Linked DNA regions of Homo sapiens. The protein of the gene in region 2 purifies or fractionates together with the protein of the main gene of each other region. This does not show direct contact. Each region holds a gene or a part of one and is shown on either strand. Other genes may lie near its edges.

What was found.
Region 1: the proteins of THOC2 (region 2) and ZC3H14 purify together in Homo sapiens (affinity purification with mass spectrometry; one large-scale study listed by BioGRID and IntAct). This does not show direct contact.
Region 3: the proteins of THOC2 (region 2) and ACADSB purify together in Homo sapiens (affinity purification with mass spectrometry; one large-scale study listed by BioGRID and IntAct). This does not show direct contact.
Region 4: the proteins of THOC2 (region 2) and RBBP8 purify together in Homo sapiens (affinity purification with mass spectrometry; one large-scale study listed by BioGRID and IntAct). This does not show direct contact.
Region 5: the proteins of THOC2 (region 2) and TOP3B purify together in Homo sapiens (affinity purification with mass spectrometry; one large-scale study listed by BioGRID and IntAct). This does not show direct contact.
Region 6: the proteins of THOC2 (region 2) and FYTTD1 purify together in Homo sapiens (affinity purification with mass spectrometry; one large-scale study listed by BioGRID and IntAct). This does not show direct contact.
Region 7: the proteins of THOC2 (region 2) and POLDIP3 purify together in Homo sapiens (affinity purification with mass spectrometry; one large-scale study listed by BioGRID and IntAct). This does not show direct contact.

The regions. Positions count from the first base shown.
Region 1 is NC_000014.9:88,576,537-88,580,036, reverse strand, and holds part of ZC3H14 (zinc finger CCCH domain-containing protein 14), read right to left. Parts: intron 2,053-3,500; coding exon 1,897-2,052; intron 1-1,896. UniProt on the Homo sapiens protein: RNA-binding protein involved in the biogenesis of circular RNAs (circRNAs), which are produced by back-splicing circularization of pre-mRNAs.
Region 2 is NC_000023.11:123,628,553-123,632,052, forward strand, and holds part of THOC2 (THO complex subunit 2), read right to left. Parts: intron 3,301-3,500; coding exon 3,136-3,300; intron 1-3,135. UniProt on the Homo sapiens protein: Component of the THO subcomplex of the TREX complex which is thought to couple mRNA transcription, processing and nuclear export, and which specifically associates with spliced mRNA and not with unspliced pre-mRNA.
Region 3 is NC_000010.11:123,015,506-123,019,005, reverse strand, and holds part of ACADSB (short/branched chain specific acyl-CoA dehydrogenase, mitochondrial isoform 1 precursor), read right to left. Parts: intron 1-3,500. UniProt on the Homo sapiens protein: Short and branched chain specific acyl-CoA dehydrogenase that catalyzes the removal of one hydrogen from C-2 and C-3 of the fatty acyl-CoA thioester, resulting in the formation of trans-2-enoyl-CoA.
Region 4 is NC_000018.10:22,939,828-22,943,327, reverse strand, and holds part of RBBP8 (DNA endonuclease RBBP8), read right to left. Parts: intron 1-3,500. UniProt on the Homo sapiens protein: Endonuclease that cooperates with the MRE11-RAD50-NBN (MRN) complex in DNA-end resection, the first step of double-strand break (DSB) repair through the homologous recombination (HR) pathway.
Region 5 is NC_000022.11:21,962,288-21,965,787, forward strand, and holds part of TOP3B (DNA topoisomerase 3-beta-1), read right to left. Parts: intron 3,089-3,500; coding exon 2,998-3,088; intron 2,029-2,997; coding exon 1,874-2,028; intron 1,742-1,873; coding exon 1,636-1,741; intron 607-1,635; coding exon 460-606; intron 316-459; coding exon 142-315; intron 1-141. UniProt on the Homo sapiens protein: Releases the supercoiling and torsional tension of DNA introduced during the DNA replication and transcription by transiently cleaving and rejoining one strand of the DNA duplex.
Region 6 is NC_000003.12:197,770,383-197,773,882, reverse strand, and holds part of FYTTD1 (UAP56-interacting factor), read right to left. Parts: intron 481-3,500; coding exon 384-480; intron 1-383. UniProt on the Homo sapiens protein: Required for mRNA export from the nucleus to the cytoplasm. Acts as an adapter that uses the DDX39B/UAP56-NFX1 pathway to ensure efficient mRNA export and delivering to the nuclear pore.
Region 7 is NC_000022.11:42,604,884-42,608,383, forward strand, and holds part of POLDIP3 (polymerase delta-interacting protein 3), read right to left. Parts: intron 1-3,500. UniProt on the Homo sapiens protein: Is involved in regulation of translation. Is preferentially associated with CBC-bound spliced mRNA-protein complexes during the pioneer round of mRNA translation. Contributes to enhanced translational efficiency of spliced over nonspliced mRNAs.

The DNA.
Region 1 (3,500 bases), on a different chromosome or scaffold from region 2:
TTGTCGAGACAGGGTTTTGCTATGCTGCCCAGGCTAGTCTCAAGTGATCCTCCTGCCTCAGCCTCCCAAAGTGTTGGGATTACAGGCATGAGCCACTGCACCCAGCCTCAAAGTTCTTCTGTTTTATGTTTTTCTTGGCTTTGTCTTGTATTATTTAAATAATGTCTTCTAGCTCACTTTGAAATTGTATTTCTTTTTGGTATACCTTTCAGCATGCTTTCATTGAAACAATGCTGTTTTGTCTTTTATTCCCTTTTATCTTTTAATTCGGCACAGGACTTGACCTTGATACTTTTCTGTTGTTCATTTTAGGGGAAAGTTTGCTTTGGATAGCTATTCTAACTTCAGAATCAACAACCTTCTTCTGTTGATTTTGTGATGTTAAAAAATATGGCACCTTGCTTTGAGATTTCCTATTGTTTTCCTCTCCTATTTTTATCTGACATTCTTTCCTTTTCTCTATTGTCTGTTTCCCTGCTCCATCTGATTCCACTCCAAGACTCTCACGTAGAGTCCTGTGTTTGAAGAAAACCTTGGTGCAACACACTACAGACTCCACAGGGAGTAGACCACTGCAGTCCTTTTAGATCAGCCTCATCTGCCACTGCACTGAGCAAAATCCCTCCTCAGTTTCAGCTCCTCTTCTCAATTTGGCCCATTCACATTTTCCAATTGGTACCTATCTGCTGTTTGGGGACCAAACAGGTCTTGTCCTCAGGCCTATCAATTATCAGAATAGTATATAACGCTGTCATGGCAAACTGAACAATACAGTCAAAAATTTTTAAAGAGACACAATGAGGAAACAAATACAGAATTGACAATTCTGAAATCATAAGGTTTCATGAAACCTGGAACAATTTAAAGGACAGTTTTGAAGAAATGAAAAAATATATTCCAAGGTTCTTGAAAAGTATGTGAGAAATAACATAATAAGCATATAGATTTTTTTGGTGGGGTCTTAAAATTCAAATCTTAGTAGAAAAAGAAACAGAAGAAAAAAGAATCCTTCTTGACGACAAAAGAGACAAAAGGTCTGAAGAGTCATGGAGAAGGGCTGTGCAGGCCCAGGGGTCAGATAACAGACACCAAAAGTCCAAACTAATAGCGTTAGTTCTGGGTAATGAGGAGGAGGGGAGAGATACTTTCACAAAGGAGTCAGAAGATGAGAGACACACTTTCAAAGTCAAAAGATTGTATAGGAATTGGGGGAGAAAGCTGAGAAAAAAGCAAAAAAAAAAAAAAAAAAAAAAAACCTGGAAGCAAACTGAAGTATGTTAGGCACGAGGGGATAAATTAGGGTTGCTGGGACACATATGGGAGGTCAGAGACAGGATGCTTAAGAGACGGGAGATTTAAAGGTAACTAAAATTTCAAGTTCAGGTAAACGGGCAGGATCAACAAAAAGAGAAAAAGAAAGAATGCAGAAATAAATATATCTTTAAGAAGGAGCTATCTAAAGACCAGCAAAATTCTGATAATAACTAAGGCTTAATGACTGGGTTCATGAGAGTTCACTGTACTAGCCTTTCCATTTTTGAGAATATTAAAAATTTCCACAATAAAAAGACTTTCAAAAATTTCTAGAAAGGGCTGGGTGCAGTGGCACACACTTGTACACACCTCCAGCTACTAAGGATGCTGAGGCAGGAGGACTGCTTGAGCCCAGGAGTTTGAGGACTGCCTGGGCAACACAGCAAGACCCTACCTCTTTAAAAAAAAAATTTTTTTCTGAAGTGTTGGTATGAACCTTCCTCATGGTATTCTTCTCATTCTATTTCTGGGCTTAATCATCACTTTTTTCATAGTGTAATATTTCATAAAAATCCATTGGAAAATATTCAATGCCTCATGAAAAAACTGTAGTAAAGAGTGAAACATCATTTAAGTTATTACCTTGATTTTTTTCTACAGAATCTCCTTTTGTTTCCTCTTCTTTAATGGGGGGACTTATTCTGGGGGTCCTACTTTGTCCCTGGACCACTTCTGCTAGCAATTCTTCTTGAGAAGTTCGAGTTCTGGGAGCAACTGGAAGTGTCTGTTTCTGTGGAACTTTCACATAAAAGCAAAAAAGATAGAAATACAAATGCAGTAATACGTCAAAACTCCACAGTGACTATGTCATATTAAATATAAATGCCTCCTTTGGTTTAGGACATATGAGTTCAGGCTGGGCGCAGTGGCTCATGCCTGTAATCTCAGCACTTTGGGAGGCAAGGTGGGTGGATCACTTGAGGTCAGGAGTTTGAGACCAGCCTGGCCAACATGGTAAAACCTCGTTTCTACTAAAAATACAAACACTAGCCGGGCATAGTGGCACACACCTGTAATCCCAACTACTCAGGAGGCTGAGGCAGGAGAATTGCTTAAACCCGGAAGGCGGAGGTTGCAGTGAGCCGAGATTGCACCACTGTGCACTCCAGCCTGGGCAACAGAGTGAGACTCTGTCTCCAAAAAAAAAAGAAAAAGAAAAGAAAAGAACATATATATGAGGAGTTCAATCCATAGATACCATTCATTTTTTCTTACGTTACTGAGATAGATACCTGAACCTATTTATCCAAACATATGTAAACAATATCCATACAACCACATACCATGAATACAATATAGTACATATGTATTCATTTTCAACAAAATGCGGTTTATTTAAGCTTAGCTTCATGATCTTATATGAGTTTCAAATTGTAATTTAGATAACCTAGGTAAAGAAAGAAAATTTCAAAGTCATGGAACTTCTCTAAACTTCTCATCATTCTAGACAATTAATATTGCTGATAGATCAGGAAATGAAATGTAGATATATCATTAGGTCAAGAGTGCGCCTTTGCCTGATAATCTTTATTCTATATGCCAAAACCTGTTGAATTTTGTGTTCAAGGTTAAATTAGGGATGAGGAGAACCAAGAGGACAGACAAGTATCAGGATCAAAAACTGATGGTGCCAGGCGCGGTGGCTCACGCTTGTAATCCCAGCATTTTGGGAGGCCGAGGAGGCAGGTGATCACCTGAGGTCAGGAGTACGAGACCAGCCTGGCCAACATGGTGGAACCCCGCCTCTACTAAAAATACAAAAAAATTAGCCTGGCATGGTAGTGGGCGCCTGTAATCCCAGCTACTTGGGAGGCTGAGGCAGGAGAATCGCTTGGACCCAGGAGGCAGAGATTGCAGTAAGCCAAGATCACACCACTGCACTCCAGCCTGGGCAACAGAGCAAGACTTCGCCTCAAAAAAAGAAAACAAATAAAAAAACTGATGGCTACAGTTTACCTCATTTTAGGAAGGGGGGTCACAAAAAAAAGCGAGAGAGTGGATAAGCAGGGCAATGCTGTAAGTACACCCACCAAATCCACAGCAAAACTTAAATCTTTTTAGAGTAGCTCATTACCATCAGCTTCTTAACACAAGTTTACACATTGGCTACAACAGGTCGGCCAGAGAGTACAGAATTTGACAACACAAAATGACACCCATCAGTTGTTTGCATTTCAGAATCAGCT
Region 2 (3,500 bases):
TACAAAAAATTAGCCAGGCGTGGTGGCGCAGGCCTGTAATCCCAGCTACTTGGGAGGCTGAGGTGAGAGGATCACTTGAACCCCAGAGGCAGAAGTTGCAGTGAGCTGAGATCATGCCCCTTCACTCCAGACTGGATGACAGAAGGAGACTGTCTCAAAAAATAAAAATTAAAAAAAAAAAAAAAGCTGGATCAACACTAAGAAAAGTTATGAGAAATTTGTTTTAAGACTGCTAAGTAGGGTGACCAATTGTCAGGGTTTGCTGGGGATTCAGGGATTTCTGAGGATTTAAGACTTCAGTGCTAAAACTGGGAACATCCCAGGCAAACCAGGACCAACTGGTTACTCTACTGCTAAGCCAAATAAATTTTTCTGTGAAAAGCTGTGGTATATTGAAGTTTAAAGCATGTGAGAACTGATGCTGCAGCTTCTTTCGTTTGACTGGTTTATCCTAATTTGGGGGAAAAAACAGAGGAATGCCATATTCTTAATTGTATGAGGAAAAAAAATTGTTAGTACAATGGGAGGGGCTGCAGAGATGTGTATGCCAAATATATTATACATATATATACACACACAAAAATATATATATTTTTTCTATATATTCTATATATATGAAGATAACATATATATGAACATATATATTATACATGAACACACACACACACACACACACACACACACACACACACACATATATATGAAGATAACACAGAGTTGCTGCTATTGTTTCACATCCTTCAGTCTCTTTAGGATGAAAGAGCTCTCATCCAGAAAATTTTGTTTAAGTTAGGTATCACCCTTCATACGAACCTAAAGGAAGTCCTAAAACTAGTTACTTCCTTACGTTAGAAAATCACTTAAATCATTCTATTTGTGCTAAACACGTAACCCAAAACGAGATGATCAAAGGTTCTGCTTCCAGTTCTACACTGTGATAGGCAAAAGAGTCTCAGCTCCTTACAGCTCAGTTACCTGCCTTCCTTCCTGAGTGCTCAATTTTACAATTGTTCTAGAATTTTACAATTGTTCTAGAAGTGGGAAGATTTATGCTCTGTTATCCCCATTTTAGAGAGCATGCTGACAACCACTGAGACCACGTAAGTGACAAAGCTACAAAGAACATTAGTTACGAAAAAGGAGTCCCAATTGCATCAGAAACCTGAGGGAATAGCAGTTGGGAAAACAGAGAGTGTTTTTTAATTTAGAGGACAGGTCTTATTGAAGGTAACTAATATGAATCTAGATGAGCAGAATGACTTCTGCTAAGGTTCTAACAAAACGGGATAAAATAGGGCTGACATTATCTGCATAAAAGACAGCCTAATTACCTGTTCTGGGCAAGATCTAGAATATGAACTAGGTTAAAAGCCTATCTTTCAGACCTGTGTCTCAAGGTGGACCACAACCTCAACAATTAAAACTAAAAATTAGTTTATAGGTATGAGAGGGTTACATGATAGCTCCAATCTCCCCAGTCCTCTGGGTCTGAATCTGTGATTTCTATTGCTAGGAACCCCATAGTCACTATCTAGTTAGAAAAATAGGCTTGGTCAGAAAAGAAGGCTATACTTCGTATTTACCCAAGATGAATATGTCCTTGTCTAAAGTCAGTTTAACTCCCACTTCAAGTTCACACCTTCAGTCAAATGAAGAGACATAACAGTTCTACATTTCAAATTGCCTGGGGAACTAGACTTATGGAATAGAACTGATATCCACAATTATTGCTGTACTTCTCACTATTGTTCAAAAATCTCGTCTCAAGAATCTGAGCAGGCCAGGCACAGTGGCTCATGCCTATAATGCCAGCACTTTGGGAGGCCAAGGCAGGCGGATCACCTGAGGTCAGGAGTTTGAGACCAGCCTGGCCAACATGGTGAAATCTCATCTCTTCTAAAAATACAAAAATTAGCTGGGTGTGGTGGCGGGCACCTGTAATCCCAGCTACTTGGGAGCCTGGGATAGGAGTATCGCTTGAACCCGGGAGGTGGAAGTTGCAGTGAGCTGAGATTGCGCCACTGCACTCCAGCCTGGAAGACAGAGCGAGACTCCATCTCAAAAAAAAAAAAAAAAAAAAAAAAAAAATCTGGGCAGCGTTTGGCTGAATTATCCTCAAGAGAGCCTGCTGATAGTTTATAGAGGGGACATAGCAATCACCTAATATACATTTTCACTCTCTCAACGAAGGCTCTTCAACAGAGGCTTTCACTCAAGAAGCAAAAGCAAGGATCCCCAGGACAGCTTGGATGCCCATCCAGCACAACCACAAGATTGCTGGGAAACACCTTTTCCAGAGAGTGGCATGCTGCCTACAGATAAAAGACTTATATCTGACTTGGCTATACAGCCACTTTCATTTAGTTTTCTGTTTTCTTCCAAGCCTGAGAGGGAAATGCCATTTCTTTGTTTAGGTTTTTGTATCTCTTAAAAGACAAAGGTAATATTTTACACAAGTAAGAGAGAAAAAGTAGCTTGAATGACCTGCTCCATTTTCTGAGCTGGAAAAGTTCAGCCAACCACAGACAACCAGGTGTTCCTGTTTGCTAGGATTCCATATTGCTGATTAGTGTGTTCACTTAGCACAGGGCAGGTCAGAATTCCTAAGATGAAGAAATTCTCCCACCTCTGTCTGTCAAGAAATCAGGTACCCTCTTGCACAGCTGAGACTGATCTACCATGGGGTGTGACAACAGTAAGACGTTACACAAAGACGGCAAACAATTCTCTGGATTGAGAGGATCTAAAGGGGAAGAAGCAGCCTAACACCACTCCCTTATTGTCTTTTTCCCTTCAGAGTGTATACATAACACAGGAATTTCTGCATAGTGCTAACAAAGTGATAATTAAATCAAGTAGCAGTTAGTTAGGAAAGAAGTGGGAGACTGTAGCAGTTGATATGTAAACACTAACAGCAGATGTTTGATTAAATGATCAATTAGACTCCAAATTTCTCATCACCTTTTTTGTATACCTCTACCACACAGCTTCGTACCCCTATTGGAAACAAAGAAGGGATCCTAGTTTAGGGCCAAGACCTTCCCCCAAAATCTGTAGTGATATGTACTTACAGATAAAACCGTTAAGAAATAATTTGGATCGTTCTTGAGCGGCAGCAAAGACACTTGTACTTACCGAAATATGATGGGCATACATTGGCCTAGACAGGAAAAATGCTGCATCATGGGGTGTATGAAATTCATTACAGAGTACATCAATTGAAGGCACTCGCTTTATATAATCTTCTGTGCTCAGATTAGATGCTAAAAACCCACCAAACTGCACCAGGGTATCATGACACTAAATTTAAAAAATAAGACAAAATCAACATATTTTCCAAAGTGATTAAGAAGTCATTTTAGGAATATTTTAACAATTAAGAATCCAAATTTTATAACTTAAAAGGACTTTAGAGACTATCTACAAGTATAACCACATGACCATATTACAAAAAAAGATGCCAAGGCCCTGACAGGTTGACTAATCCAAGGTTTTACTAG
Region 3 (3,500 bases), on a different chromosome or scaffold from region 2:
TGATTTTGATTTCCTAAGCCAAATTGTTCATACCTGCTTGATATGGTTTGGCTGTGTCCCCACCCAAATCTCATCTTGAATTGTAGCTCCCATAATCCCCATGTGTCATGGGAGGGACCCAGTGGGAGGTAACTGAATCATGGGGGCGGGTTGTTCCTGTGTTGTTCTCGTGATAGTGAATAAGTCTCACAAGATCTGATCGTTTTATAAAGGGCAGTTCCCCTGCACTTCTCTCTTGCCTGCTGCTATGTAAGACGTGCCTTTGCTCCTCCCTCACCTTCCTCACCACAATTGTGGGGCCTCGTCAGCCACGTGGAACTGCGAATCCATTAAATCTCTTTTTCTTTATAAATTACCCAGTCTTGGGTATGCCTTTATTAGCAGTGTACCAATGGATTAGATTTTAAGTTGATCCCAATTTTATATCCCCAAGCCAAAACTTCTATACCAGAATCTGTCCAACCTCTGCTTGCTTTCTCCATAAATAATAGCTTCTGTTCTAGGTATTCTCCAAAACTGCTAAAAACGCAACCTTTCCCATCTACCAGTCTCTGATTCTTCATTCTAGTCTTTAGGAGTTCCTAACAATGCCTTGCCCTTTTAAGAATTATAGTGATTCCCTCAAAAGAGGGTTAAATAAGCCAAGACAAGACACAAGGCAAGGGAATCAACACAAAGGAAATGGGTTTGCCTGTAGTGTGACCTTGGCCAAGTCAACAATTTCTCTTTCCCAAATTACCAGTGGACAAAAATGAAACCAGACACTCACTTCTATTTTCAAAGAAATTTTAAAAGATAGGATTATTATGGAGCTAAAGTATTTTTTAATCATGTGTAAACCAAAAATAAGATTCTAAGGCCCCCCAAACCAGCTGAACAGACTTCCTCCCTAGCCAGGGGTCTTAAAATTTCACCTGAGAGACTGTTTCAGGCCATGATGGGAAGTGGGGGTCGAACATACCTCATTATACCTCACCAGCATGAACATCAACACAGAACTTTAGGCCTAATAAGAAGCATTTCAATCCATTCTCTCTGAAGTCGGCTACCTGGAGGCTTCATCTGCATGATTAAACTTTGGTCTCTACAACTTCTTATCACAACCCAGACATTCCTTTCTATTCACCCCAGGTTTTTAGCCCAACTCAACCAATTGTCAACCAGAAAATGTTTAAATTTACCTATAGCCTGGAAGCCACCCCCGACTTTCATTATGGGAGTTATTAAAAAATTATTTTAGGCCTATAGAGAGGAAAAGGTGTCCTTGGGAAGTTTTTGTTTCTTTTAAAGCAGCTCCAGGAACGTTTCTTGTCTAGCAGGAAAGCCCGGCTCTTCAAGCTGGGACAGCAAGCTTAGACATGCAAATGCCGGCCATTAGAAACTGTGTCCACCCGGTGAGGTGGCTCACACCTGTAATCCCAGCACTTAGGGAGGCCTAGGTGGATGGATCACGTGAGGTCAGGAGTTCCAGACCAGCCTGACCAAGATGGTAAAATCCTGTCTCTACTAAAAATACAAAAATTAGCCGGGCATGGTGGTAGGTGCCTATAATCCCAGCTGCTTGGGAGGCTGAGGCAGGAGAATCACTTGAACCCGGGAAGAGGAGGTTGCAGTGAGCTGAGATCACGCATTGCACTCCAGCCTAGGCAACAAGAATGAAACTCTGTCTCAAAAAAATAAATAAATAAATATAAGGTAAAGGAGTTGGGCTTGCCTTTATTGTGACCTTAGCCAAGTCAACAATTTCTCTTTCCCAAATTACCAGTGGACAAAAATGAAACAAGACACTCACTTCTATTTTCAAAGAAATTTTAAAAGATAGGACTATTATGGAGTTTAAATTTTTTTTTAATCACATAATTACTTGGGTCCAACAACTTAACAGGCATTGGGAATTTCTTCAACTCACCCTCTTTTTCAGGGAAGATAGTCAGAAGAAACACTTAAATAGATGCCAAAAGACCAGAGTTCCATATCAGGGGTTGCATATTCAACACTGGCTGGGGACAGGGGGTTACCAAATTGAGTGAAGGGAGCATGAACCACGTTCACAACCTCCTCAGTATGCATTCCACCAGCTCCATTAGCTGGCCCTGCCATGTCTTGCACTTCTCAAAACACACCGCTTCTGCTCTCACAGGTTTGTTTTTTTTATGTGACACAAATTCTGTATGTTTGCTTTTAAATATCCTTTTCCTTCTTTTGCTCCAATTCTGAATAAAACACATATGTCACAGAATTTCCTCTGATATCCTACTAAGTCTCCTTTTGCTTCTTTGCTTCTCAACATTTACCCAGGATGGTCTGAACTGTACCCCAAAGGCTGACTTGTCCACTCCTGTTTCTTCACTATCCTTCCGATGCCCCATACCCATTTATGGTTTTGGCTAGCATTTATAGCTCTTAAAGCAAACTAAATATTGCCTGAGAAGGACTCCGTATGTCTATATTTGAGTCCTTGTGGATGAACTGTAACCTAGCTTAATAGGTAGACAAGATTGAAAGCCTAACTTAGGAGTATGCGCCTGTAACAGTAGCTGCGTCTTGGGCAATCCCAGCAGCCATCCTTCAACCACTCATGGACTGCTGAGTGTTCTAACTGTGTTCAAATAAGACAATTGCAAATCTGTAACCAATCCAGCCACTGTGTACCTCACTTCCGATTTGTCACTTCCCTTCATTTGTCTATAAATTTGTTATGACCACAAGGCATCCCTGGAGTCTCTCCAAATCTGCTGTGGTTCTGGGGGCTGCCCAATTTGCTGCTCAATTAAACTCCTTTAAATTTAATTCAGATGAAGTTTTCCTTTTACCATAGCTTTAGCACTGGTCCACTTTCTAGACCCATTTCTGACCAGCTTCTAAGACACTTTCAGTTGTAAGTTTTATTAATACCTAAAACGTGTCTAAAACAGAATTACCTTTCTTCTGTCACCCTAAATTACTTTTTCTCCAGATGTCCCAATCTTTGCCTATCACTAAGCTATTTCATTTAGAAAATGTGTAGTCCATCTAATTCCTCCATTTCAAGATAATTCCCACATCTTCTCAAGTCTTCTTTTATTAACATGTCTTCCTTTCTGATCATCGGTGCTATCACCCTCATTGAGGGCCTTGTTACTCTAAAAGTGGACTTGTGAAATGGTCTAAGTGGGATGTGGCTTCAGAGTCTCACGTGATGAGTTCCTTTTGTGAGCTGCTGACTGTTTTATCTTGTAAACTCCTTTGCAAACAGCACCTTAAAATCTCAATGGCTGCTATTGAAATCTTTCAACAAAAATCTTTGAAACTGTAGATCAATTTCTATAGCCAACAAACTGAGTATGGCAAATAGTTTTAGAGAGAAAGTTCCCTACCAGGTTATAAGGAGAAAGGCCACCTTTCCCCTCCTTCATGGAGTACACTGTTACACAGGTCTACATCCGTGGTTCTCAGTCCAGTAATTTTGCCCCCACGGGACATTTGGCCATGGATGGAGACATTTTGGGTTGTCATAGCTC
Region 4 (3,500 bases), on a different chromosome or scaffold from region 2:
AGCTGGGACCACAGGCACACACCACCATGCCTAGCTAATTAAAAAAATGTTTTTTGTAGAGACAGGGTCTCGCTTTGTTGTCCAGGCTGGTCTCAGACTCCCGGACTCAAGTAATCCTCCTGCCTTGGCCTCCCAAGTGTGTGCCACTGTGCCCAGCCTGACAGCATTCTTAATAATGAGTGGGACAATTCCTTTCACTGTTAATTTGTGCAGTCTTAAGATAATGTTCTCTTTTTAGAATTTTTGATTCTATGTATAGAAAATAAATGGAGCAATTAAAAAATGAATCAAGAAATATTTATCCTGTCCTATTAGAGCCCCCAAACTTTCCCATTTCTTCAAGGTGTTTCAACTTTGCCTCACAAAACCTACCTAGTTTTCTTTGAAACTGATTACCATATTTACTAGACACAGAAAATATATTAGCTAGATGTTAATAGCAGACGCTGGCATAGGCAAAAGATCATTTATTAAAATAGTGGTATTCTGAAAATAAATATTTTAAATTCTATTTTATTATTTGTGCTTTTGATAATAAACTTGATACTGAAAAAGATTTTTAAAGGCAATAAAATTTTGTACCCAAATAAATATGCTTTAAAACTTTTGAAATTTAAAGAATTCTGAAGTTTCCATTAAATTCTGTGAGTTCGGAATTTAAAGCATAAACACTGTATATCATCAGTAACAATCTGTGACACTGATACTAGCAGCATTTGTCACAAAAGGAACATATCATGAAATGATACAATCATGAAAGGATAAAATTATCTTAAAGGATATAAAAACTCGGTCATAAATGTCTCCAGAATTTTTCAACAAAAATGGTCTGGTTTGCATATTGCTAGTCTCCAACAGAAATTAGAGCATTTTGTCTATTCTTGCCTAGTTTTAAAAGACATGGATGCAGTTTATTATATTGTTGTGATCAGTGCACATACTGTCATATTTTGCTATCATTTTATTATGTTTTGGCAAAAGAGGCAAAAATAATTCTAAACACGTGTAGCAGAGCATTCAGATTCAAGCAAGTTCCTATGGGTACATTTCTGTAGCTAAGTAAAAACTATATATCTCAAATATTACCATTCCCAACATTTCTCTTTTATTTTTTACTGACATGAAGCTTTAAAAGTCATGAGTCAATTTTGATTCCTATATATACCTTAAAACCTGCAAAGTCCAGACAAGTCCATGTTTGATGTCTTTCAAACAGCTTCTTACACTGGTTTCTACAAATGGATTCCCCACCTCCTTAAAAAAATTAAGTTCCCTTCAGGCATGTCTTTGATGTTATCATATAGAGACTCTAATTTTATATGGAACTATGTGGAACATATTGACGAAGGCATGGCCCAAACCAAAATGTTTTAAAATGACATATCTACTTAAAAAATAGTACTTATTCATTTAATACCTTTAAGAATCCATAAGTTATTTGAAATTGGGAAAGTGGCATGATCAATATAACGTACCAAAGATTATCTTCTCTTATGAGCTCATATATCCAATACCTAATATTCATAAAACACATGGACCTTATCATATACACCAACAATTACTGTATTCCTCCCTTAAAGTTATTCAGAGTATAGAAACTTTTGTGGGAATGTGATTAGAACATAACCATGAGGAGTACACTTTAAAGGAATTATCTACTACATAATATTTGCAAGCTTTATATATTCTATAATTTGATAAATATGGCATATTGTTCCTATTAAAGAGTATACCATTTGTTTCTTGATGCTTCCTCACTGTAAAATAGGGATTTCATGAAGATCCTGTAACACCAAAGAATAGGAAGAAGAAATCTGTCAAATATTTTATTTCTATTAAATTAATAGCTTATAAATAGCCAGGCACAGTGGCTCCTGCCTGTAATCCTAGCACTTTGGGAGGCCGAGATGGGCGGCTTGCTTGAGGTCAGCAATTCAAGACCAGCCTGGCCAACATGGTGAAACCTCATCTCTACTAAAAATACAAAAATTAGCCAGGAGTGGTGGTGCGTGCCTGTAGTCCCAGCTACTTGCGGGGCTGAGCCAGGAGAACTGCTTCAACCTGGGAGGCAGAGGTTGCAGTGAGCTGCGATCATGCCACTGCACTCCAGCCTGGGTGACAGAGTGAGACTCTGTTTCAAAACATAAAAAACAAAAATAGAAATCAAGAGTTTCAAGAAAGTTGCAGAATATAAAATCAACTCACTAAAACCAGTTGTATTTCTATACACTAACAATGAACAATCTGAAAAGCAAATTAAAAAAACAATTCTATTTACAGTAGCATCAAAAGAATAAAATACTTAAGAATACATTTCACCAAGGAGACAAAAAACTTGTACAATGACAATCAGAAAATGTTGCTGAAAGAAATTATAGAATGACCAGGTGTGGTGGCTCACACCTGTAATCCTAGCACTTTTGGAGGCCAATGAGGTCAGAGGACTGCTTGAGCCCAGGAGTTGAGACTAGCCTGGGCAACAAAATGAGATCCCTGTCTCTATAAAAAAATAAATTAGCCAGGTTCGGTGGTGCATGCCTGTAGTCCTAGCTACTCTGAAGGTGGAAGCGGAAGGATTGCCTGCACCCTGGAATTTGAGGCTACGGCGAACCATGATTGTGCCACTGCACTCAAGCCTGGGCAATGAGGCAAGACCTCATCTCTAAAAATTAGTAATTAAAAATTAAAAAATCTTAAAAAGAAATATAGACCGGGCGCAGTGGCTCACGCCTGTAATCCCAGCACTTTGGGAGGCTGAGGCGGGCGGATCACGAGGTCGGGAGATCGACACCATCCTGGCTAACACAGTGAAACCCCGTCTCTACTAAAAATACAAAAAATTAGCCGGGCGTGGTGGCGGGTGCTTGTAGTCCCAGCTAGTCAGGAGGCTGAGGCAGGAGAATGGCATGAATCCAGGAGGTGGAGCTTGCAGTGAGCCGAGATCGCGCCACTGCACTCCAGCCTGGGCTACAGAGCAAGACTCTGTCTCAAAAAAAAAAAAAAAAAAGAAATATAGAAGACACTAATAGAAAGGTATCCCGTGTTCATGGACTACAAAACAATATTGTTAAGATGTCAATACTATATAAAGCAATCTACAGATTCAATGCATTACCTATCAAAATCCCAAATCCCAAAATCCCAACATTTTTTGCAGAAATAGAGAAATCTGTCCTAAAGTCAAGGCAAGATGACAATCTCTTCAGCATAGCACATACCATTTTACATAATTTGGATCTATGTACATTTCTAGCATCATATCCTATCCACCTCCCCCAAAACTCCAATCTCCCATTCCATTTCCTCTTAGAACTAAACCTAACTATCCAGAGTTCCTTGAATAAAATCAAGCTCTTATCTGCAAACTTTTGCATGTGCTATTCTCTCTACTCAGAAAATTCCCTCCCCTTCCACCATCTTCCTTGCCTGGCTAATTAGACTTAATTATCAAGCCTGGTCTGACATAAACCATGCACAAACCCACTTCCCCATGCAACCAC
Region 5 (3,500 bases), on a different chromosome or scaffold from region 2:
TGGGTCACCAGTTTCCAGATACCAGCCCATGGAGGGGTGCTGGGCTGGGCACACAGGGCTGGCGGGGCAGCTTTGTGAGTAGACTCGAAGCCTGAGTACTGGAGACGGAGCCGGCTCTGGGGCCTGGGCAGGCGCACCCACCGATGCCATGCTTCTCCATGAGCGTGATGAGCTCGGCCTCCGTCAGGTAGTCGGGTGGGTTCGTCTGCTTCTCCAGCATCTTCACCTCGCCCACAGGGAAGGCATCACCCCGCTGGCAAGTGGGCAGGCTCTCCTCCAGGGGCACGCTCTGCCAGGGCATGACCTCCGTGAAGCCTGGAGAGATATGCGCCGCCACTCAGGGTCCCCAGCCTGGGTGGCCGGGGCCTCAGACCCTGGGCCTCCCATCCCCAGACACGATGTAGAATGTTTGTCTGCCCATGAAGGCACAGAGGAGGAAGGCTGGGCCCGTGGTGTGACCTGGTGAGAGGACGGTCTTCCCGGAGCAGGTGAAGAGCTCGGGCCCAATTCTGAAGGAGATGGTGCTCTGCAGGTACTTGCAGTCATGGCTGACCGTGGCGATGAAGTGTCTGGTGATGTACTCATAGAGCCGCCACGCGTCACCCCCTGCAACAGGCCAGGGCTAGTCAGTTGGGAGCCAGCTGGGGGCTCTGGCCGTGAGGAGCCCCCAGTACTCTCGCTCGAGCAGCAAGCTCCTGCTTACAGAGCCGCTGTGCAGGACACACTGCAAATCCTGGGGAAGGAGGAAAGAAAATGTGCAGGAAGGCCGGGCGTGGTGGCTCATGCCTGTAATCCTAGCACTCTGGGAGGCTAAGGTGGATGGATCACTTGAGGTCAGGAGTTTGAGACCAGCCTGGCCAACATGGTGAAACCCCGTCTCTACTAAAAATACAAAGAAATTAGCTGGGTGTGGTGGTGGGAGCCTGTAATCCCAGCTACTCGGGGGGCTGAGGCAGGGTGAACTGCTTGAACCTGGGAGGCAGAGGTTGCAGTGAGCCGAGATCGGGCCACTGCACTCCAGCCTGGGTGACAGAACAAGACTCTGTCTCAAAAAAAGAAAAAAAAAAAGCAAATGCGGAGGAAGGGAACACAAGCCTCCATGCCTCAGTGGTTTCTTTCTGGCTGCGGCTCCCACCATCCTGCACAACCTCCTGTCCCTGCTTCTGGCGGGACTGCTCTTCAGGCATTGGCCTGTCTTTCCATTGTCTCGTGACATGACACCATTGCTTCAAACTCAGACTGTCCACAGGTGGCTCCTGTCTCTACCTGCACTGCTCTCCCTTCCTCATTTGCCTTCTCCTGGCACTCGGACCACTGGTACCACCTTAGGCCAGCTGGGAGGTAGGAGGTGTGCTGCCCCCTCCCCCACACCGCCACTCTCTACCCTGGTTTCATTCATGTCCCCTGTGGCGTCTGCCCCCTTGCCTCCCTGCAACAGCACCTGCTGCTACCTCTTCACTCCTGTCCTGGTCCCATAGCAATGGAGCTCATCTTCCAGGTGGCCCCCCATCCCCACAGCCAGGGCAGGCAGAGGCTGAAGGAGCCCCCACATTGCCAACAGGGCCTGCAACCTTCACTGTCGCAGCTCGCCCTTCCCTCCCTGGAAGCACACCGGGTATGGGATGAGAGCGGTACCTAATTCGGCCTCTGTGGCAGACTTCATGGGGGTGATGGGGGGATGGTCGCCGGCGTCATGGCCTTTCCGCGGGCGGTTGATACCTTCTGCTAACAACCGCTTCACCTGAGGGAGAGAAGACAGAGCAGAGTCTGTGGCTGGGCTCGGCTGCCTGCCTGGGTTTGGCTGACGTACCAGACCTGGTCCCAAGGCCTCAGTGACACACACACATGCTGAGGCCGGCCCGGCTCCACTCACCGTGTCGGCCCAGTAGGGGTGGTTGGCCTGCTGCCGCAGAGAGCCCTTCAGGTCAAAGTTCTCAGGGTAGTGGGTGGTCTCTGTCCGTGGGTAGCTGATGTAGCCTTGCGTGTAGAGCCGCTCAGCCGTCTGCATGGCGTGCTGCGGCCCCATGCCTGCGAGAGACAGGAGGTTCTCAGAGGGCCAGGTACGTGGGGATGGCCAGCTGCCTGCCCTGGCCTATGCACTCAGGCTCCCCCATTGTGGCCGGCCCCTCCTGGAGGGTGACGGTGGCTCTGAGCAGGCACAGCTGGAGTGCAAAGCTGCTGGCCGGGTGGGCACCTATGCCACACAGTCTTGTATGAGGCTGAATCCCGCACCCGTAAGGCTGAATCCTACACCCAGGATGGGCCTGATGGGAAACGCCACTCACTCTACCCCACGGTGCATCCTCATGGGGCTCATGGCCATGGGGATGACACATGGCCTTCAGAGCACCACTCCCCATGCATTGTCCATGGAGCCATAACCATACCTCGGGGTTGGCTGACGACAGAGTTAGCACGCAGCCCCATTTTGAGCCCTTGGGTGTTTCTGTCCTCACAGCACTTTGGGGCCACTCAGGGGGGCTCGTCCTGCTACTCCCTGACCAGCAGAGGCAGGCGCTTAGCTAGCAACCACTCCCAGCATTGCTGCCCTCTGAGGACGCTGGAGCCACCACTCAGTGTCCACTGAGAGGACACTGCCCATAGTTCCCTGCGGGGGTGGGGGGCACCAATGCCTAGGGGCTGACAGCTGCCAGAGACCACCAGCTTTCCAGCCCAACCCCCTCCTCGTTACTAAGGAGAAAAGACTGAGGAGATGAGGCTGAGGGGCGACGTTCACACTGGTTCCCTGAAGGTGACATCTGGCTGGGGCCTCTCCCCTCACCAGGGATAGCTGCTCAGGGACTCTAACATCAGGAGGTCCCCTCAGGTGGTGACCAACTTTACCACCTTTACAACCTAAGGATAAGTGAAATCCTCCTGAGGCTCAGATCCCCTTGAAGCCTTGGGCACCATCCTGCAACCCTGGGCACTCGCTGCTCCAGGCTGAACCTGCCTCAGGAAGCCTTCTGGTGACTTGAGAGAAATGTCCCTACATACCCAGAGAAGAGCTGGCCACACGCAGCATCTCCACAGTGTTCAGGGCCAGGGGCCTCTGCTTGGCCTTTTCTTTCCTGCTTGTGGCCTCCACCTGGAAGACAGGACAGTCAATGATTTGGGGAAGGAGGAAGACACCACCATAGAGGGAATCAAGATGTGTGGACGAAGGGTCTGGTTTCATTCATCTGGTCTCCCTGTTTCTCCAATTCATTCTTCCCAACAGTCTAAAGACTTGATTGAATATTTATTCAGGACCAGGAAAGGAAAAAGAATGAAAATTCTTTTTTAAAAAAAAATTTTGGCTGGGTGTGGTGGCTCACGCCTGTAATCCCAGTACTTTGGGAGGCTGAGGCGGGTGGATCACCTGAGGTCAGGAGTTCGAGACCAGCTTGACCAAGATGGTGAAACCCCGTCTCTACTAAAAATACAAACATTAGCTGGGCATGGTGGAACGTGCCTGTAATCCAAGCTACTCGTGACGCTGAGGCAGAATTGCTTGAACC
Region 6 (3,500 bases), on a different chromosome or scaffold from region 2:
AGTGGGGCGTGTGCGTGAGTGCAGCGGAGGGGCCCGTGCTATTCTAGAACTTCCTAACCCAGTGGGGTGTGTGCGTGAGTGCAGCAGAGGGGCCCACGCTATTCTGGCAACAGTTCCCTGTTGGAATTCCTACATGAGAACGAGTGGCAAATACAGGTTTATTCCCAAATAACGAGTTAAATTCTTATAAGACATTGCTATTGAGGGTAAGAAAAGATGGGAAATAAAAAACATACAACAGGAAGAACTAATCTACTACCACGTGCCTCACATCCTGAACCCAATGCTGCCTATGACTGAGGCTTACTAAAGGTGGCTGCTCAGGATCCTCTTTGGGAAAAAACAAACAAACAAACAAAAACACTGCCAAAGTTTTTAAATACCTTCAGGCCTCTTCTGAAAAGAAAAGTTGCCTGACGAGTATCTTTCTGATGATTTAATTTATTTCCACTCCTGGTAAAATTAGCTGGAATGTTATTTCTGCAACAAAAACACATAGGCCATGCTAAGCCATTTAACTACTTTCAAACATCTTGAGGAAAAATAAGCAAAAATAGTTAAATTCATAGGCTGCAAACATGAGGTGCAAGAAACAAACAACTCTGAATTATTTGCTTATTAACATGAAGCTACTGAGATTTGATTAACAAATACCTCCCTCCGAAGCATAGCACATAACCACGTGTTAATTTCAAACCACTTTATCTTCCAAATATTCAATCCTCTAATATCCCATATATCTTCTGAAGACATTAATAATCACATTTTTAGTGCTATTTCCTATATTTGGTGAAAACATAACTTTACAATTTATAGGATTAGTACAAAGAAAAACCACACATAGGCCAAACTGAAGACGTAAAATAAACTGAAGACCAAAAATAAAGAGAAAGGTTTGAAAAATAACATCTCCTCCTCCAGCTTTCTCTTCCTTCCTCACTCAGAAACCATTATGTATTAACATAAACCATAGAGGCCAGGCATTATGGCTCACACCTGTAATCCCAGCACTTTGGGAGGTTGAGGTGAGTGGATCACTTGAGGTCAGGAGTTTGAGACCAGCCTGGGTAACATGGTAAAACCCCGTCTCTACTAAAAACACAAAAATTAGCCAGCCTTGGTGGCACACGCCTGTAGTCCCAGCTACTCAGGAGGCTGAAGCATGAGAATTGCTTCAATCAGGGAAGCAGAGGTTGCTGTGGGCCGAGATCACGCCACTGCACTCCAGCCCAGCGACACAGACTTCATCTCAAAAAATATACAAACCACAGAAAAACTTATACTCTTCTATTTCTTGTTCTTTCATGCACAGAACAATGCTCTTAATTATGACTGTCACCAATTCTTTTTTTTAATTTTAAGTTCTGAGACACGTGCTGAACGTGCAAGTTTCTTATGTAGCTATACATGTGCCATGGTGGTTTGCGGCACCTAATTTCTTTTGTTTTCTATAGGAAGTTAGTGAAGTACGAAAAATTAAAATTTCATATTTATCTATGAAATATTCAATCCTCTAACATTCCATGTCTTCAACTGATGTATTGATAAATATGAAACACTATATAAACGAGTGTTTAACAGATTCCCTAGTCTTACCTCCAATCTTTCAGAGATTCAAGTTCAAAACTGCCCTAGCTAACCCAATTAACATGTAAGTCTCACGTAAATGATGGGTTCTTATTTGAGAAGGTCCCCTTTCACAAAAGGTACTATCAAGTGATTCCCAAAAGATGATGGTTAAAACTGCAATTCCAGCCATTCCATTTTTTGTTTTTTTATTTTTATTTTTTTGAGACAGAGTCTCACTGTCACCCAGGCTGGAGTGCAGTGGCACCATCTTGACTCACTGCAACTTCCGCCCCCCAGGTTTAAGCGATTCTCCTGCCTCAGCCTCCCAAATAGCTGGAACTACAGGCATGAACCACCACGTCCAGCTAATTTTTGTATTTTTAGTAGAGATGGGGTTTCACCATGTTGGCCAGGCTGGTCTCGAACTCCTGGCCTCAGGTGATCCACACGCAGCGGCCTCCCAAAGTGCTGGGATTGCTGGCATGCACCGGTCACCACATCGGGCTAATTTTTGCATTTTTTTTTTTTTTTTTTTTTGAGACGGAGTCTCGCTCTGTCGCCCAGGCTGGAGTGCAGTGGCGGGATCTCGGCTCACTGCAAGCTCCGCCTCCCGGGTTCACGCCATTCTCCTGCCTCAGCCTCCCAAGTAGCTGGGACTACAGGCGCCCGCCACCACGCCCGGCTAATTTTTTGTATTTTTAGTAGAGACGGGGTTTCACCGTTTTTAGCCGGGATGGTCTCGATCTCCTGACCTCGTGATCCGCCCGCCTCGGCCTCCCAAAGTGCTGGGATTACAGGCGTGAGCCACCGCACCCGGCCTAATTTTTGCATTTTCAGTAGAGATGGGGTTTTGCCACATAACTCCTGACCTCAGGTGATCTGCCTGCTTTAGCCCCCCAAAGTGCTGGGAATACAGGCATGAGCCACTGTGCCCAGCCACTGCATTTTTTAAAAACCTCATTCCAGGTTTTTTTTGCTGACTTATCTTCCACGAAAGATAAATAAATAATACTTGAAACTGAATAAGGAAACTTCACACCTCATCAACTTCATCTACTTTGTCCTTACAGAGAACAGAATGCCATAACAACAGATCATAATTTTTCTTTTCTTTCTTTTTCAGAGATGGGGGTCTCACTATGTTGCCCAGCAGGTTAGCCCTGAATCCTGGGCTCATGTGATCCTCCTGCCTCAGCCTCGTAAGTAGCTGGGACCACAGGCACATGCCACTGCACCCAGCTCACAGGCCATAATTTTTGGTTTTTATTATTCAATTTAGTATAAAAATAATTTCAGTTTAACAAGTGTTCATGAAGAATTCTCCCTTTCTAGTTTGATTTTTCCACAAATAACATACATTGTGATTCAGTGTTCTAGTAAGAGCCATCCAGACTGAGTAACAAATTGAGATTTCAGAATTCTCAATTTTGAATAATTCCCACTAAGATGTTAAGAGTTCTACCAGGGCTGGGCACAGGGGCGCATGCCCGTAATCCCAGCACTTTAGGAGGCTGAGGTGGGAGGATCACTTGAGGCCAGGAATTGAGACCAGCCTGGACAACATGGTGAGACCCTGTCTCTATTAAAAAAAAAAAAAAATTAGCAGGGCATGGTGGCATGTATCTGCAGTCCCAGCTACTCAGGAGGCTGATGTGGGAGGATCGCTTGAGCCCAGGGCAGGCCAAGGCTCCAGGGAGCAGTGATGGCGCCACTGCACTCCAGCCTCAGCAACAGATCGAGAAGCCCTGTCTCAAAAAACAGGGAGAAAAAAAAGAGAGTTCTACTAAAGTGATCAGCTTTTGCAATTTTATTCCATATGTCAAAGAGGTAAAGAAGCAGAGTGATGCTTTTTAAAAAGCTTATATCGGTTAACTTCATCAGTAAGAATTCATCTAATAAACAAGCTATTACTGGATACATCCATGTGGATG
Region 7 (3,500 bases), on a different chromosome or scaffold from region 2:
TAGAAGGTGGTGGCCTTTGGGAAGTGATTAAGTCATGAGGACAGAGACTTCACAAATGGGATTAGTGCCCTTTATAAGGAAGAAGCCCCAGAAAGCTCCTTGGCCCCTTCCACCATGTCAGGACTCAGCAAAAAGACCATCTACAACCAGGAAGCAGGCAGGCCCTCATCAGACATGGAATCTGCCAGCATCCTGATCCTGGACTTCCCAGACTCTCTGTGACAAGGAAGTTTCTTTTCTTCAGTTTTGTTTTGTTTTGTTTGAGATGGAGTCTTGCTCTGTCATCCAGGCTGGAGTGCAGTGGCGCAATCTTGGCTCACCGCAAGCTCCGCCTCCCGGGTTCATGCCATTCTCCTGCGCCAGCCTCCCAAGTAGCTGGGACTACAGGCGCCCGCCACCACGGCCGGCTAATTTTTTGCATTTTTAGTAAAGATGGGGTTTCACCGTGTTAGCCAGGATGCTGTCGATCTCCTGACCTCGTGATCCGCCTGCCTTGGCCTCCAAAGCGTTACGATTACAGGCGTGAGCCACTGCGCCCGGCAGTTTCTGTTTTTTATAAGTTACCCAGCTTAGGGTATTTTCTTATAGTAGCCTAAACGGACTAAAACAGGCAGTGATGCATGCTATCATTTTTCTCTTTGGAGTGGCAAATTCAGATTTAAAGATTTTCCAGTGGGTTCTGGGTAGAAGGGTCATTTATACAATTAATCAGATAAGGCTTAAGGTTTACTTGGCCATTCCTGTCCTATTTTTTTAATGTGAGGACTCTGGGAGATGGAGGCACTAGAGAAAGCAGGGCCAAAGGAAGGGAGTGTTCAGGGGGTCGGCATGCACGATTAGAAAGAAATGGTTGTATGTGGTAGATGGCATCCACCCTCCCTAGGACTGGGCTACCCTAGGCTTCGTGTTCCATGGCCTACAAAGCCATAGACAAACTGGGACTATGCTTTGGGGTGACCTCAGAAACTTGCAGCTAGGCCAGGCACAGTGACTCACACCTGTAATCCCAGCACTTTGGGAGGCCGAGGCTGATGGATTACTTGAGGTGAGGTGTTCAAGACCTGCCTGGCCAACATGGTGAAACCCCGTCCCTACTAAAAATACAAAAATTAGCCAGACGTGGTGGCACGCGCCTATAATCCTAGCTACTCGGAAGGCTGAGGCAGGAGAATCAGTTGAACCCAGGAGATGGAGGTTACAGCAAGCCAAGATCACACCACTGCACTCCAGCCTGGGCGACAGAGCAAGACTCTGTTTCAAAAAAAATAAAGGACATGATCAATGAAAACTTCTGAGTATTACTCACTACAGGTTGACAATTTTTCACACAGACTTTTTTTTTTTTTTAAGAAACAAGGCTGGGCACAGTGGCTCATGCCTGTAATCTCAGCACTTTGGGAGGCCAAATGGCAGGATGGCTTGAGCCCAGGAGATCGAGAACAGCACGGGCAACATAGCGAGACTCCCTGGGCATGGTGGCTCACACCATGTAATCTCAGCACTTTGGAAAGCTGAGGCAGGAGGATGGCTTGAGCCCAGGAGTTCAGGACCAGCCTGGGCAATATAGTGAGACTCCATCTCTATAAAAATGAAAGCAGAAAATTATCTGGGCATGGCAGCATGAGTCTACTCCACAGGCTGAAGCAGGAAGACCACCTGAGCCCCAGACTGCAATGTTGCCGTGAGCCAGGATCGAGATACTGTCCTCCAGGCTGGACAACAGAGCAAGACCCTGTCTCAAAAACATATTTTAAAAAATTTAAAAGGACAGAATCTCATTCTGCTGCTCAGGATGGAGTGCAGTGATCATAGCTCACTACAGCCTTGACCTCCTGCCTCAGCCTTCTAAGTATGGAGCCACCATGCCCAGCTTTAGACGTCCTTTAAATGTTACAACCCCGTGAATCAGGTTATTGTTCACATCTTATAAATGAGGAAACTCAGAACCAAGGAGATTAACTATCCCAAGAGCTACTAAGGGGTGAGGAATGGACTTGAACTTCACTGTACCTGGTTCAAGCATCAATTAAATAAGCATGGGTCAAGAGTAAACAGCAGAGCTGGAAGAGTTAAGAAAAAAACTTCTAAAAAATAAAAAACACCAGGAGCAGTAGCTCATGCCTGTAATCCCAACACTTTGGGAGGCCAAGGCGGGCAGATCGCTTGAGCCCAGGTGTTCGAAACCAGCCTGGGCAACATGGCAAAACCCTGTCTCTACAAAAGATACAAAAAAAATTCCCTCCCCCTCCCCCTCTCCCCAGTTTCCCTCTGATGCCGAGCCGAGGCTGGACTGTACTGCCGCCATCTCGGCTCACTGCAGCCTCCCTGCCTGATTCTCCTGCCTCAGCCTGCCGAGTGCCTGGGATTGCAGGCGCGCACCGCCATGCCTGACTGGTTTTTGTATTTTTTGGTGGAGACGGGGTTTCGCTGTGTTGGCCGGGCTGGTCTCCAGCTCCCGACCGCAAGTGATCTGCCTGCCTCGGCCTCCCGAGGTGCCGGGATTGCAGACGGAGTCTCGCTCAATCAGTGCTCGTTGCCCAGGCTGGAATGCAGTGGAGTGATCTCGGCTCGCTACAACCTCCACCTCCCAGCCGCCTGCCTTGGCCTCCCAAAGTGCCGAGATTGCAGCCTCTGCCCGGCTGCCACCCCGTCTGGGAAGTGAGGAGCGTCTCTGCCTGGCCGCCCATCGTCTGGGATGTGAGGAGCCCCTCTGCCCGGCCGTCCAGTCTGGGAAGTGAGGAGCGCCTCTTCCCGGCCGCCATCCCATCTAGGAAGTGAGGAGCGTCTCGGCCCGGCCGTCCATCGTCTGAGATGTGGGGAGAGCCTCTGCCCCGCTGCCCCGTCTGGGATGTGAGGAGCGCCTCTGCCCGGCCGCGACCCCATCTGGGAACTGAGGAGTGTCTCTGCCCGACCGCCACCCCGTCTGGGAGGTGAGGAGCTTCTCTGCCCGGCCACCCCGTCTGGGAAGTGAGGAGCCCCTCCGCCCAGCAGCCGCCCCGTCTGGGAAGTGAGGAGCGTCTCCGCCCGGCAGCCGCCCCGTCTGGGAGGGAGGTGGGGGGCAGCCCCCGCACAGCCAGCCGCCCTGTTCGGGAGGTGGGGGGCGCCTCCACCCAGCCACCACCCCGTCTGGGAAGTGAGGAGCCCCTCTGCCCGGCCGCCACCCCGTCTGGGAGGTGTACCCAACAGCTCATTGAGAACGGGCCATGAAGACGATGGCGGTTTTGTCGAATAGAAAAGGGGGAAATGTGGGGAAAAGAGAGATCAGATTGTTACTGTGTCTGTGTAGAAAGAAGTAGACGTGGGAGACTTCATTTTGTTCTGTACTAAGAAAAATTCTTCTGCCTTGGGATGCTGTTAATCTATAACCTTACCCCCCCCCCCAAAAAAAAATTAGCTGCAAGTGATGATGCACATCTGTAGTCCCAGCTACTCAGAAGGCCAAGGCAGGAGGATCAACTAAGCCCAGGAGGTCCAGGCTGCAGTGAGCCAAGATCACACCA